Homo sapiens: one gene and its partners. The protein of the gene in region 1 purifies or fractionates together with the protein of each later gene. This does not show direct contact. Each region holds a gene or a part of one and is shown in the gene's direction. Other genes may lie near its edges.

Evidence for each region.
Region 2: the proteins of GDPD5 (region 1) and NDUFS4 purify together in Homo sapiens (co-immunoprecipitation; 3 studies listed by BioGRID and IntAct, with this or other methods). This does not show direct contact.
Region 3: the proteins of GDPD5 (region 1) and SCAMP4 purify together in Homo sapiens (co-immunoprecipitation; 3 studies listed by BioGRID and IntAct, with this or other methods). This does not show direct contact.
Region 4: the proteins of GDPD5 (region 1) and PIP4P2 purify together in Homo sapiens (co-immunoprecipitation; 3 studies listed by BioGRID and IntAct, with this or other methods). This does not show direct contact.

What each region holds. Positions count from the first base shown.
Region 1 is NC_000011.10:75,515,851-75,519,594, reverse strand, and holds part of GDPD5 (glycerophosphodiester phosphodiesterase domain-containing protein 5), read left to right. Parts: exon of another isoform or gene 1-580; intron 581-1,321; exon of another isoform or gene 1,322-1,379; intron 1,380-2,168; exon of another isoform or gene 2,169-3,744. UniProt on the Homo sapiens protein: Glycerophosphodiester phosphodiesterase that promotes neurite formation and drives spinal motor neuron differentiation.
Region 2 is NC_000005.10:53,563,544-53,567,287, forward strand, and holds part of NDUFS4 (NADH dehydrogenase [ubiquinone] iron-sulfur protein 4, mitochondrial isoform 1 precursor), read left to right. Parts: intron 1-3,744. UniProt on the Homo sapiens protein: Accessory subunit of the mitochondrial membrane respiratory chain NADH dehydrogenase (Complex I), that is believed not to be involved in catalysis. Complex I functions in the transfer of electrons from NADH to the respiratory chain.
Region 3 is NC_000019.10:1,918,804-1,922,547, forward strand, and holds part of SCAMP4 (secretory carrier-associated membrane protein 4), read left to right. Parts: intron 1-85; coding exon 86-187; intron 188-3,744. UniProt on the Homo sapiens protein: Probably involved in membrane protein trafficking.
Region 4 is NC_000008.11:91,030,711-91,034,454, reverse strand, and holds part of PIP4P2 (type 2 phosphatidylinositol 4,5-bisphosphate 4-phosphatase), read left to right. Parts: intron 1-3,744. UniProt on the Homo sapiens protein: Catalyzes the hydrolysis of phosphatidylinositol-4,5-bisphosphate (PtdIns-4,5-P2) to phosphatidylinositol-4-phosphate (PtdIns-4-P).

The sequences.
Region 1 (3,744 bases):
TACGTGTAAAGCACTCAAAAAAATGCCCAGCACATAATGAGCACTCAGTGCAGGTTAGCTGTTATGATCTGTATCTCCAGCACCTCACAGAGGATCTTAGAGAAAACAGGTGCTCAGGAAAGGCGTTTGGAATGAATCCCAGGCAAAGGGCAGCTGCTCCGTGGAATGAATGAATGAACAGCCTGGTAGGGTTGGGAGGACACAGAAGCAGTGACAACACAGAATGTGACAGGGAAGGCCAGGGGCCTGGGGTTGCCCGGCGCTGGGTGGGGAGGGGAGTCAGGGAAGCCTTCCTGGAGGTGGTGCCCATGTTGCTGACTTTGGACCTCTGTGAGATCAGCACTGAATGAGCTGAGAGAGGAGTAGCTCCTCTCCAAAGGTAGCTGGCAAGGAGGAGAGCTTGGGCAGACCCCAGGACCAGTGGACTCCACAGGCCTCTCACTTCCCACCAACCCACACCATCTCTCCATCTGTGACATTCTGCTTTCAGGGCATGAGGAAGGCGGAAAGGCAGGTGGGGAGGAAGTGTGGGCTGCTGGTCTGACAGGCTCAGCTCTTCCCAGGCTTGTGACCAAATCTCCTGCAGAAAAGGATAAACAGGCCTGCTTTGAGTTCTTTTATCTTCTTGCTCCCAAGGCACACCAGCAAGCAGAGGGGGTCTTCCAGCGTTAATCCTGCAGCTGTTTAGCTTTTGAACGAGTGGACTCTTTAAAAAAAATGCCACGAAGAATGTCTCACTCTCTCACCCAGGAGGCTCAAAGAGAAACTTCTCTCCCACTGACAAGGGAGCTGGAACCCCCAAGTGTCTTAAAGAAGCTCACCCCAGGGGCAGTCTGAAATCAGGGGACCCCTCATGCTGCCTCGATTTGTTGCTGGCTGTGGGGCCTTGAGGACACCCTTATATTTTGCTTGGCTTCTGCCCATTTTGTAAAATGGGGTCAGGGTAATAAATCCCTTCTTTCCTTAGAAAGGCGTGTGGCAGGAGAGTTTCAGAGGTGGGAAGGGCAGCAGTGGGCATCCAAGCCCATGGCTTTCAAACTTTGTTTCACATTAGAATCATCTGGGAAACTTTTAAAAGTCCTGCAGGCCCCACAATCTCTGGGGCATGACCCAGGCATCAGTAGTTGATGAAGCTCCCCTGGTGATTTCAGTTTGAGAGCCACCTGGCTGCCCTCTGCAGCCTACCTCCCACAGTGTCCCAAGACAATACTTGCACATCCCCAGGACAAGGAGCTCATTCCTTCCGAGGCTGCTTCCTCCCCCCAGGACCTTCCTGCCTGGAGAGATGAGGGGAGTGGGAAGACTTGGTAATCCAGTTAACCTGGGTTCCAGCATGCAGCTGCTCCCTGCGTGTCTTCTCGGAGCCTCAGTTTCCTCATCTGAAAAATGACAATAACGATCTCTCTGAAAGGGCCACAGAGGCCAGACGAGGCCACACATGGCAAGCACCCACCCCATACCTGACGCCGGGCTGGACTGAGACCCTGAACTCCCTGCCCCAGCCACCTGAGGCCAGGTCTCTGAGACTGGCGCTGGTTAGGGTGGGATCAACACCCAGCCCGGGGGCCCTTCCCACTGTCCCCTTTCTCTCTAAGAGATAAGACAAGGCAGTAAGCATTTTGTTTTGCTCAGTTTTGCTTTAATGGTCAAAGTGTCAGACTCTCCTTAACAATGAAGCCTTGTCTGAATCTGCTTGTTTTTCCAACCCGGACACCCAACTGCACCACCTGCTTGGGGCCCCTGTCCCACCTGGGAGAACTGAAGAATGTCAGAGGATTTTTTTTTTTAATCTAGGGGAGGGTGTCCAGGGAACATTGGAGGCCTCTGTGCAAATCCTCACCGATAATTGACCCCACTTAAGTCATCCAACTCTGCTGTGATTGTGAGCCAGTTCACTAAAATTATTTCAAGGTAGTTACTAGGTGTTGAGCTAAACCCCTATCAGTGCCAGTGAGGATGGCACCAGGCTCAAGAGGCCAAAGAGGAGACCCAGAGCCAGCGAATGAGCCATGGGGTTTTACTACGGGCTCACACACAGGGGAGAGAGTCCAGTGGCTGCTGGCTGGACCGAAGAACCACAACCACTCGCAGGAAGTGTGCAGTTTTTTTGTTTTTGGTTTTGGTTTTGGTTTTTTTTTTTGAGACAGAGTTTCGTTCTTATTGCCCAGGCTGGAGTGCAATGGCGCGATCTTCACTCACTGCAGCCTCCGCCTCCCAGGTTCAAGCGATTCTCCTGCCTCAGCCTCCCAAGTAGCTGGGATTACAGGCAAGTGCCACCACACGCAGCTAATTTTGTATTTTTAGTAGAGATGGAGTTTCGCTATGTTGGTTAGGCTGGTCTCAAACTCCTGACTTCAGGTGATCCGCCTGCCTCAGCCTCCCAAAGTGCTGGGATTATAGCTGTGAGCTACCGCCCCCCAGCCTAAAAGCTTGCAATTTCTATAGCATTTTCACTTAGCACCTCCCCCAACAACTTCCACCTAGCAACCTCCATTTACCCCAAACCACAGACCTCAATCCTCTGTTTGGCCCGCAAGTTCCATAGGATGGGCCAAGAGCTCAGATGTTCCTCATAGATAAGGAGTGGATCTCCGGGTTGGCTACTCCCAGATTCCTTAGCTTAGAACCAAACTGCATTGAGGTGCGCCTGCCATACAAGGTCATTCTCAGGGCTTGCTCAAGTCCAGGTATCACTGTCCAACGTGTCTACCATACAGAAGACAGAAAACTTATGTTGATCCTGGCTTTGTCACTTACTGGCAGGATGACCCTGGAAGAATCATTTTATCTCTTTGAGCACGAGTTGTTTCTCCTATAAAATGCATTTGTAGGAAGGACTTCCTGGGATTACCTGAGAAGCAAATAAAATTACTGGTATGTGGAGCACAGTGCCTACCGTAAACTAAGCACTCAAGAGCTGTTGGTGCATGCACTTGCTGGGGAGCTGACCCCTGCCTCCTGCCCCTTCCTTCACTGGCTGGTCCACGCTCCCTGTCTCCCAGTCTGCTCCCCTTGCCCCACCAGGCCCAGGCTGAGACAGAGGACAGAGGAGGCCTGCACATGTAATCATGGGCATCCCTTCAAACTGCTCTTCTTTAAGACCAGAGGAGGCTCTGAGGACTGGACAGAGGAAGACTACAAAAGGGGCCATCAGTGGCAGTGCTTGGTCTCCTTGCCTGGGCACAGCCAGAGAGGGTACATCAACCCAGAGTGACTGGCTCAGGCATTAGGCGTGTGACAAATCAACACGGGATAGTGCAGCACCGAGGGACTAGCAGTGGCTGGGAGCAGTTACCACTCAGGGCTGAAGGAGCAAGGGAAGTGGGCAGCTATAGGGATAGGGGCTGTGGGCCATCAGTACAGGGACCCAGTCAACCCAGGAGACCTCACAGGGGATAAACTTCAACTATCTTTCCTCTTTCCTTCAGTCCCCCATTTATGCTTCCTGTTGGGTGTACCTCTCTGAAAGCCAGCAGCATGGAGCCCATTACATTCCACAGAGGTCAGTTCCCAGGGCCCCAAACAAGGTAGAGAGTGGCTCTGGAGAAGCAAACCAAAGACACTTCCTCACTCTGTCCATCAAAAGCCCGGGAGTCCACTGAATACACTGTCCTTAGGACACAGTTTAAAGATCATCTGTTTTTACCATACCCCTTAATGAAGGGGCTCTCAGCCCTTACCCCAAAGATGAATCAGCAGCCGAGCTGCCACAGACACCTCGGCGAGAGGAGTTTTGGAGGTACC
Region 2 (3,744 bases), on another chromosome or scaffold:
CATTCTAGAGTGCAGTGGCACAATCTCAGTTCACTGCAACCTCTGCCTCCCGGGTTCAAGCGATTCTCCCGCCCCAGCCTCCAGAGTAGCTGGGATTACAGGTGCCCACCACCTCGCCCAGCTAATTTTTTTATTTTTAGTAGAGATGGAGTTTCACCGTGTTAGCCAGGCTGGTCTCAAACTCCTACCCACAGGTGATCCACCCGCCCCGGCCTCCCAAAGTGCTGGGATGACAGGCGGGAGCCACCGCGCCCATCCCTAAGTTGTCTACATTTATCCTTACTTTCCCTGACTTTCCTAAGAGATTTTCCAGGGTAAATTTAACTATTCTAAATGCATTTATCAGCCAGATGAAATGGCACTCTATTTCAAAATAGCTATACTTAAGATATTTGATGCAGTGATGTTTTTATTCACTTATTTAAGTGTGTTCATGTATACTTATCTCACCTTAGTATTTACTAGGTCTTGTGTTTTCCTCAAACAAGTCCTTAGGGTGTTAAATCACCCAGAGGGTTTTAATTAATGACTGGTGGGGACTGAGTGTTTGGGACCTGTTTGTGAGGTCTCTTTTATGCCCTGATCTGTGGCTTTATTCTGTTGCTGTGTTTGGTTCTTCAGCATTATATAAGCTAGCATGAAATTGAGTCTTCAATTCGATGGGGAATTGAATTTGAACCCTCCAAATAGTAAGCAGTCCTTAAGGTTGACAAGAATTCTGTTTGTTAACACCTTGCTGGGAAATAGGCTAAGCTCAAATTTAGGACACTTAAGACCAATAGGTTCACTTCTACTTCAGATAAACTAAATAAATTCCTCTCCTAGGGGCAGCTATTTTTGCTATCTTTGTAACACATCCAAGCCAAAGTTTGAGAGCTTGAAAGATTTCTAATATGTTTTCTGATAGGTTTATTTGTTTTGTTTCTTTTCCTCTTTCCAAATGCCCATACTTAGTTTTCATCAGTAGCAGACATCTTCGTTGAATTTTTGTTAGGAAAATAATTATTATATTTTGAGACAGAGTCTCATTCTGTTGCTCAGGCTGGAGTGCAGTGGCGCAATCTTGGCTCATGCAACCTCCACCCTCTGGGCTCAGGTGATCCTCCTGCCTTAGTCTTCACAGGCAGCTGGGACTGTAGGTGTGCTTGCCACCACGCCCAGCTAATTTTTGTATTTTCAGTACAGACGGGGTTTCACACTGGTCTTGAACACCTGACCCCAAGTGATCCGTGTGCCTTGGCCTCCCAAAGTGTTAGGATTACAGGCATGAGCCACCGTATCCAGCCGGAAAATTAAATATTTTAATATGTAATGTCGGCATATAGTAAGCCTTCCCTAGATAAATGGTAATTTTATTATTGGTTTGAATGGCCTGAATGTTTTTCATTTCTTTAATCTTGGTTGTAAGTATTGTGATAGATTGTGTTATTGTTTAAAGTATTCACTACCACTGTCTGCAACAGGATTACATATCCAAAAACCACTGGCCAAATGACTTGCTTTATCCAGTGAAATGTTAGTGGAAATGATATACCATGTCAAACAGGAGCTTTGAGAGCTCTCCTGTGTTTTGTCATATTCCTTTTCCCTCTGATGTGAGGTAGGTGTACTCCAGGTGGGGTCTGCTGTTTTAGCCCACATCTTGGATTGTAGACTACATAGTGCAAAGCAGAAACTGATTCTTATTGCAAGATTTTATAAAATATAAATTGAGTGAAAAATAAACCTTTGCTGTAAGCCACAAAGGTGTTTGGATTGGTTACCTCAGCATAACAACCTATGCTGACTCTATTTTATATACACTCATATTTGCAAGTGAGCAGGTTTTAGCACATGGACCGATATATCAGCAGTGAGGTCGCAAGCTTTTTGAGGACACAACCACATTTTTGTTTATTTGTGTGTACTTCATGGCATCTAGTGTAATGGCTTGCATGTAGCAGGTAAATGCTTATCTTACAGATGAATAAATACATATTTAGAGATGAGCGATTGTGAGGAAAAGCAGGGAGCATTACGCAGTGTTTCTTTTAATACCCTCATCAGTGATAGCCAGGTAGGCACTAACCTTTATAAATATGAAGATAAACTATCTACAACACATATTCTAATTATTTGCAGTGGTCTGAGTGTAGGATATTCACCTAGAACTCTGTTAACTTTTGGATTGAAGTTGTCTTATGAATAGATTTTGTATTCATACACTTTGACAAGTGTTCAGACACTTCTTTTGTATTCAAATTTAAAAATGCAAGAGGAAATGAATGTTTGGGAAAGGGTACCCTTGGAACATGAGAACTTTTTTGGAGTAAGAGTAACTATGCGAAGTTTTAAAAAGTCAGTAATACGGCCGGGTGCGGTGGCTCACGCCTGTAATCCCAGCATTTTGGGAGGCCAAGGCGGGTGGATCATGAGGTCAGGAGTTCGAGACCAGCCTGGCCAACATGGTGAAACCCCGTCTCCACTAAAAAATACAATAATTAGCCGGGTGCGGTGGCGGGTGCCTGTAATCCCAGCTACTCGGGAGGCCGAGGCAGGAGAATCGCTTGAACCTGGGAGGCGGAGGTTGCAGTGAGCCGAGATCGCACCACTGCACTCTAGCCTGGGTGACAGGGCAAGACTCCAAAAAAAAGTTAATAATACACGGAACTTAAGGGAGAAAGATGGAGCAACTTGGTTCCTGTATAATACTTGCTAGAAGAGATCTGTTTGGGGTGAGGTATACATAGAATTTAGTCAGAATACATATTGTCTGTACTGAATACAAACAATTTCAAATGGAAGAGCTTCTAAAACATGTCCCTTGGTAGAAGTTGAGAATCGTTTATTCCAAGCAAAATTAATTCCAAGTAGCATTTGTTTTTAATTTACTCTGTATCAGCTACTGTGCCAAGGATTTCACCTGTATTATCTCATGTGTTTCCCACAGTAATCCTATCAACTCAGGTGTTGTTATCCTCATTTTTCAGATGAGGAAACAGGTACAGAAGTGAAATTACTGAAGTTTACATTGCCAGGAAATGTAATTGTCTCTTGGTATCCATGAAAGATTGGTTCCAGGACTCCTCAAGGACACCAAAATCCACGGATGCTCAAGTCCTTGATTTAAGATGGTGTAGTATTTCCATATAACTTCTGTACATCCTCCTATATACTTTAAATCATCTCTGGATTACTTATGATACCTAATACAATGTAAATTCTCTGTAAATAACTGTTATCCTGTATTCTTTAGGAAATAATGAAAAGAAAAAAGACTGTACATGATAAGTACAGATGCAGTTTTTCCTCCCCCACCGCCAAGTATTTTTTTTTTTTTTTTTGAGGTGGAGTCTTGCTTTGTTGCCCAGGCTGAAATGCAGTGGCGTGATCTCGGCTCACTGTGAACTCTGCCTCCCAGGTTCAAGCAATTCTCCTGCCTCAGCCTCCCGAGTAGCTGGGATTACAGGCGCGCACCACCACGCCTGGATAATTTCTTTGTATTTTAATTAGAGACGGGGTTTCACCATGTTGGTCAGGCTGGTCTCAAACTCCTGACCTCGTGATCCACCTGCCTCGACCTCCCAAAGTGCTGGAATTACAGGCGTGAGCCACTGAGCCCAGCACCCCTTAATATTTTAAATCTGAGGTTGGTTGAATTATGATGTGGAACCCACAGATGCAGAGGGTTGACTGTAGTCTGATATAGCAGTCTAAATGAATATGTTCACTTTTGCAGTGAGGAATATTATGTCTGGTAATAAT
Region 3 (3,744 bases), on another chromosome or scaffold:
CATCTCTGACTGGCCCGTTCCTCTCTAGGCGCGTCTGGGAGAAGCCAGGGCTGTGGTAACCGTCGTGTTTTCTGTCCCTCCCCAGAGCCGACAGCTCCTTTAATTTCATGGCGTTTTTCTTCATCTTCGGAGCCCAGTTTGTCCTGACCGTCATCCAGGCGATTGGCTTCTCCGGCTGGGGCGCGTGGTAAGCCTCTCTCTGATGGGCGTGGTGGCTGTGATGTGGCTCAGCTGCCAGGTTGTGGGCCTGCTGGGAAGCCAGGCGGCCACCGGAGCGTGCTGGTCCGGGATTGTACGCGCTCTCCTAGGGAGGGGTCTGAGCTCACCCTGGCAGCGCCCGCGTCCTCGCCAGCGCCCGCGTCCTCGCCAGCACCCAGCCATGGTTCGCGATTGTAGGCACTCTCCTAGGGAGGGGTCCGAGCTCGCCCTGGCAGTGCCTGCGTCCTCGCCAGCGCCCAGCCAGGCTTGTCTCCTGAGTGTTGATCACACCCCTGACCCGGGGTCTGGGAGCCAGTTCCTGGCTGCTGATGTTTCTGCACGGATCGCTGCAGGAGGAAGACCTGTACATCTGTAAAAACACACATACCTGGTGCTGTTACCACACCTGAGAAACTCACAGTCACTCTCTAAGGCTGCCAGGTGCCCAGAAGTGTTTGTGTTGGTGTCTTAAATTTCTGCCTTTTTTCTTTTCTTTTTTTTTTTTTTTTTTTTGAGACAGAGTCTTGCTCTGTCACCCAGGCTGGGGCGCAGTGGTGCAATCTCAGCTCACTGCAACCTCCACATCCTGGGTTCAAGCAATTCTCCTGCCTCAGCCTCCCGAGTAGCTGGGACTACAGGCGCCCGCCACCACGCCTGGCTAATTTCTTTTGTATTTTAGTAGAGACGGGGTTTCACCGTGTTGCCCAGGCTGGTATCGAACTCCCGAGCTCAGGCAATCCGCCTTTCTCAGCCTCCCAAAGTGCTAGGATTACAGGTGTGAGCCACTGCACCCGGCCCTTTTTTTAAACTATTATTATTTTTTTTTGAGATGGAGTCGCTCTCTGTCACTCAGGCTGGGGTGCAGTGACATGATCTTGGCTCACTGCAACCTTCACCTCCCAGGTTCAAGCGATTCTCCTGCCTCAGCCTCCCGAGTAGCTGGGACTACAGGTGTGTGCCCCCACACCCAGCAAATTTTTGTATTTTTAGTAAGAGACGGGGTTTCACCATGTGTTGGTCAGGCTGGTCTGAAACTCCTAACCTCGTGATCCACCCGCCTCGGCCTCCCAAAGTGCTGGGATTACAGGCGTGAGCCACTGTGCCTGGCCAAATTTGTGGCTTTTTAAATAGGCTTTTTATTTTGGAATAATTTGTAATTCTCAGTTGCAGAGAGTGACTGTTCTCGCCCACGTCCCCGACGTGTCTCCCTTGTCCTTGGCACGGCGGGAGCTCCCCACGGGTGACGCTGCTCACGGAGCCGTGGGTGCCTTTGGTTTCCTGGGCTCCCATTAGCAAGCTCCTGTTCTGGGGTTCCTGCCCCACAAGACTGCGGTACTCTCACGCCAGTGCACAGATCAGAATCCAGATAAGGTCCCAGGTTTCCTGGGATGGTGACTCCTCTCCCTTCAGGGCCCCTCGATCTGCAGGCCTCTCCCCTCCTGCACCTGCGCCTGGCGCCAGGCCCTCCAGGGTGGCTGGGATCTGTGGTTTGTGCACCCCTCGGATGTGCCGCTGAAGCTGGTCTGTCACCTGCCACCCCAAGAGCCTGAGTGACGTTGCCCCAGGGATCTGAGTTAGAGTCATAGTGAGCGTGTGCCTGGGACTCCCAGCTCTGCCAGCCTTTGGGGTGCTTCCCCCTCCTGCAGAGGCTGTGGCTGCAGGTCAAGGCACTGCTCGTCATCCTCCGAGTCCTCCTGAGCTCCCAGCTGCCAGCTCGGCTCCCACTGGCCCTTCCCTGGGCTCCAGTGCCTCCTGTGAGCCGCCTCCCCGGTGCGTCCCCAGCTCTCCCAGGCTGAGCTGGGTGGACAGGCCTGTGCCCGTGTTGGGTGGTCCTGAGATCCCGGCATGAGGTGAGTGCCCACATGTGACCCTCAGAGACCTCCCTGCCCCCTCGGCCCTCGTGCACGTGCGGCAGCAGCGACTTGGCTCTTCTCATTGGAGCCTGGGTCATCTCCCGCAGGTCACGGGAGAAGCTGAGCATGCGGTCCCTGCCCGAGGTGGACAGAAGGTGAACGCTCTTGAGAAAGAAACCCAGCGGGTCTTAGGAGAGCCCGGCCCCCCTTGTAATGAGAGAAATCAAACCACAGCGCACAGCGACTTCATGTCCACCGTTGGCTTAGTGAGGCCCCACGCTCAGTGCGCTGCTGTGGGGCGAGAGGGGACAGCCCCGCTCTCCCTGTCCTGGGCGGCTTCACCAGCGCCACCTCCCCACACACTCTGTGCACTGCTGTGGGGCAAGAGGCGACAGCCCCGCTCTCCCTGCCCCGGGCAGCTTCACCAGCGTCACCTCCCCAGGGGTGACGCATGCCCGAGGCCATGAGCCACGGCAGCATCTGTGGTGGCAGAGGACTGGAAACTCCAGAGAAATGACCCCCAGCGGGGCCTAGCTGTGTAGATGGTGAGGGTGGCCACATGGCGGCAGCCAGGTACTGAGGACACGGTGCAGCAGGGGCCCCCGGTGGGCCCCGCCAGGAATCGGACATCAGCGGGCGCCGCAGCCTCTAAGCGGAGCATGCAGCCCACTGACAGTGTGCTGGGTGCCTCCCTAGACCTGACACTTGCATGCGGGGGCGTGCGATGCTGGCCAGTGGGAAGCTGCGGGGGCGGCGGCAGGAGTCCTCAAATGCCTTTGCCGCTTTTCATAAATCTAAAATTACATCCAAACAGAGGTTTACTTTTTTAAAAAATAAAAGAGGCCAGGCATGGTGGCTGACGCCTGTAATCCCAGCGCTTTGGGAGGCCAAAGCAGGAGAATCACTGCTTGAGGCCAGGAGTTCAGACTGGCCTGGGCAACATAGGGAGAAACCATCTCTCCAGAAAAAAAAAAAGAGGAAGGAATGACCCAAAGACCATGCAGCCTGTGATGCTGTGGAGGCTCCAAGCAGGCGAACACAGGACAGGCCAGCATCTTGCAGGGACGCGGCGGGGGGTACCGCGTGTGCGTGCATATCACGCCCCGTGCATGTGTGTGCATAAGCTCCCCGGACACATCCGGGGGTGTGGGTCCTGCGGGCTGCCTGTGCACCAGGGAGGGGAGTCAGCAGGAGAGAGACTGTACGTCGTGCCTGCCTTTAAGTTCCCTGAATTTTAAACCCTGTGGTTTCATCACCTGTTAAGACAAAAATCTCAAAATGACTGTTTTCTGCCTCCTGGGTCTCAAAGGCAGGTGCAATGCCCAGAGGCTGGTCCTGCACAGAGGGACCCAGGGCGTGCTGGCCTTCCCAGTGTCCCACTGGTGGCTGATCTAAGCAGTGCTTTCCCTCGTTTTTTTATTTTGAGACAGAATCTTGCTCTGTCCCCCAGGCTGGAGAGCAACGGCACGATCTCGGCTCACTGCAGCCTCCCGCTTCAGCCTCCCAGATAGCTGGGATTACAGGCATGCGCCCTCATGCCTGGCTAATTTTTGTATTTTTAGTAGAGACGGGGTTTCACCTTGTTGGTCAGGCTGGTCTCCAGTTCCTGGCCTCAAGTGATCCGCCCGCCTCGGCCTCCCAAAGTGCTGGGACGACAGGCGTAAGCCTCTGCGCCCGGCCTCCTCATTGTTTC
Region 4 (3,744 bases), on another chromosome or scaffold:
AAATAGAGCCCACACATTGGTGAAATAGATCGGCTTCTAGCTTTCCAGTATGGTGGTGAGCTCATTTGCTGTTGTAGTCTTTTTGTCATTATTCTGTAGGCATCAGGCTCCAGGATTCTTATATTCTGTTTTATAATGCCCACATTTCCTTCTGTCTATACTGAGCATCTTTAAAATATTAAGAAATGTTTCATTCAGTCATCCTTTCAAATATTTGAATGCCTATTACAGTATTCCAGATGCTGGAGAGCTTACATTCCTGTGAGAGATACATACAGTAAGCGTTATAATTTCAGAGGGTGAAGAAAATAAAGCAACCTGTGAGGGTGGAGAGTAACTGTTTGGATGGCAAATGTTTGAGATGAGCGTCCAGGAAAGACAACTCAGAGATAGCAATCACCGAGAGACCTGAAACATGAGTTGGATCAGCCTTTGGAAGATTTACTGAAAGAGTGCTCCAGGCAACGGGAACAGCAAGTATAACACTTGCTATTTTAAAAACAAGGAGGAGGCTGGGCACTGCGGCTCATGCCTGTAGTCCCAGCTACTCATGAGCCTGATGCTGGAGGATCTCTTGAGCCCAGGAGCTTGAGGCTGCAGTGAGCTGCGATTGTGCCATTGTACTCCAGCCTGCGCAACAGAGTGAGACTCTGTCTCAAAAATAAATAAATAAATAAACAAAAACAAGGGACAGTGGGTTAGAGCATGGTGACTTAGAGGACAGCAGAAGAGGTAGAGGAGGTGCGAGGTGTAAATGAGGGAAGCCCAGGGGAGATTTCTATTCCACCTGCTGAAGAAGGGATTATGTCCTGAGGATAATGAGAAGCTATGGAGAGGTTGGAGCAAAGGAGAGACATGAAAACACTTTACTTTTTAAAAAAATCACCCTTGGTTGGCATGTGGAGGAGAACAGACTAATGAGACATGACACTAATCAGGATGCTGTTAGAGCAGAAGAGGCAACAGGGGACCAGGGTACAGGTGACAGAAGCACTGAGGTGTGGTTGGTGTCAGGATGTATTTTAAACAGGACTTGCTGATGGGTTGAGTCAGTGAAAAGAAAGGAATCACAAATCTCCAAAAATGACCCAACTAAGTAGGTACAAGGTTATATCTGAGATAGGCAAACAGGAGGAAGAGTTGGCCATGTGTTTGGGAGGTGGGAGAAGAACAGTGGAAGTCACTATTCTGTTTCAGTCATGTGGAGTTTGCAATACCTTTAGTTATTCAATTAGAAATGTGAATTAGGCAGTTTGTTGTACAAATCTGAGGTCTGAGAAAACTTGGGGTTGGAGAGCAAATTTCATTCAACAATTATTTATTAAATGTACAGTAGCATTTTCCTGGAGAGGGAGACGATGCTCTCAATTTCCTGTTTGTTTCCAAGGACTATGCAGACTCTTCAAGAATGTAAAACTTGTAGGGTAGAGCATTCTGTTAAAATTTTGGAAGGTTTGCCAAATGCATACAAATGTTAGCTAGATGGATATAGATATTGGAGAAGAAAGTTAACAGGAGGGATGTTCATAACTATCTTTGAGGGCAATAAACAGCTATCTGGGAAGTGATCTAAATGGAAACTGTAATACTTCCATTTGGGAAAAGCAGGTAACCCTGAATACACCTTGTGCTCAGGTGTTTTGTGTTTCTTTCTTTTTTTTTTTTTTTTTTTTTGAGACAGACTCTCACTCTGTTGCCCAGGCTGGAGTGCAGTGGCATGATCTCGGCTCACTGCAACCCCTACCTCCTAGGTTCAAGCAATTCTCCTTCCTCAGCCTCCCAAGTAGATGAGACTGCAGGTGCCTGCCACCACACTTGACTAATTTTTGTATTTTTAGGAGAGGTGGGGTTTCACCATGTTGGCCAGGCTGGTCTCGAGCTCCTGACCTCAAATGATCCACCCACCTTGGCCTCCCAAAGTGCTTGGATTACAGGCATGAGCCACCGCGCCTGGCCTGTGCTTCATTTTTAATGAGTAAGAGGTATTCAATAAATTGGGAATGGCATTCCATAGTAGCTCCTGAAAAGGAATACATTCTTCCTGCTGTTTCTGTTATTTTATGAGGGTTTCTATGCTTTTTTAGAAAAATTTTTGGTGGTAATGGGGGTGTGCAAAGGAGTTTATGTTGCTTTTGAACTTTTCTAGATTTTTTCTTTTCCAGTTGCTGTTGTAAAGTGAGTTCCTTTTCTTCTGTAAAAACCACAACAACCAAATGTGAAAAAAGCAAAAAGCATGGTTCCTTTTTCTGGACTTCAGGTGCATTGTGCAAGTATTGTGTAACTAACTCCCTTTAGAGTCCAGAGAAGGTCTGCCACCAGGTAGTGTTTGGCTTGGGAGACCTGAGGCTTTTTATCTCCGCCAGTTACTACCTGTTTGGCCTTGGAATCGTTACTTTACATCTCAGGGCCTCAGTTTCCCACATTTATCCAAGGAGTGGTGCATTATGTTTCCTTTGGCTTTTATATTTTATGACACAGTTGTTCTTAGGAAGCTGGACACACTTAGGAAAATATATCTATAAATTTACCTTTGGCTTTTATATTTTATGACACAGTTGTTCTTAGGAAGCTGGACACACTTAGGAAAATATATCTATAAATTTAAAATGTAGATGCTTGTTATCCTTTCTTATCTCACTCTTTTACTTCCAATGTCCCTCTTTCACCTAAATAGCTATTCCTTCCAGTATGCTTTTAGAAATGAGAAAGATAATATATTGAAGATTAAGGATGTTACATGACTCTTGTAAAAATTAGAAGCCCAACTAGCATGCACTGTTTTATTTCTCTGTAGAATATATTTGCATGTGTGTGCTGCATGATTGATTAGGGCATTTTATTCTAAGCATTTACTTCTAAAGGCAATGGCAAAATTTTTCTTCCTCTCATATTGAGATATTTAGGCTTGGTCAATCTGTAGTAAGGATTTTAAAACAGTGTACAAGAAAGCCCCGAATTTTTTGACATTTTTAACATGTGATTTCCACAGGGGGAGAATTTGGAAGACGGCATGTTACAATATGACATTTTATTGTTTGAGAGATTAAGTGCTAAGACTGACAATCCAGAGGAGAAACAATATAGAGAAATGATAGTGAGTAGACTTAAAGTGAGATTTTCAGACACCTTTTAGACCATTGGACATATCCAAATAAACATTGATTTCTATTAGCTGTATGGATTTTACAAACTAATATAAAGTTATTTTAAAGTTTTGTAACAAAAGCATTTTCCAAGTTTATAGAATTTGGTTGTCATGTTCTAGTTCTCTATATAAAATACCTTGCCAGGCTCAGCAAAAGTCGTATTTGGATTTGCTACCATCCCTTAATGAGGACATAGGTCATTATTAAAACTATCAGACATGCCTGAATACAAGATGACCTAAGTGGAAGCCATGTGGTCTTTTATGACCCAGCTTCAAAAGTCAAATATAATGTCATTTCTGCCATCCTCTATTTGTCAAAGCAGTTACAAATACCCAGATTCAAGACCTTACCTCTCAATGGGAGCAGTGCCAAAGAAGTTGTGGCTTTTTTGTAAAACCACCATAATAAGCCATGTCATATCCATAGAATGAAACAACATGATGCTGGAAAAGAAATTATTAAACTCTATATACAGTTATGGAAAGATACACTGTAAAATGAAAAAACAATGAGATGAAGAATAGTTTATAAGTCATACTCTCTTTTGTAAGAATGATGGAATAAATGAGAATATGTATATGTGTATATTACCTGT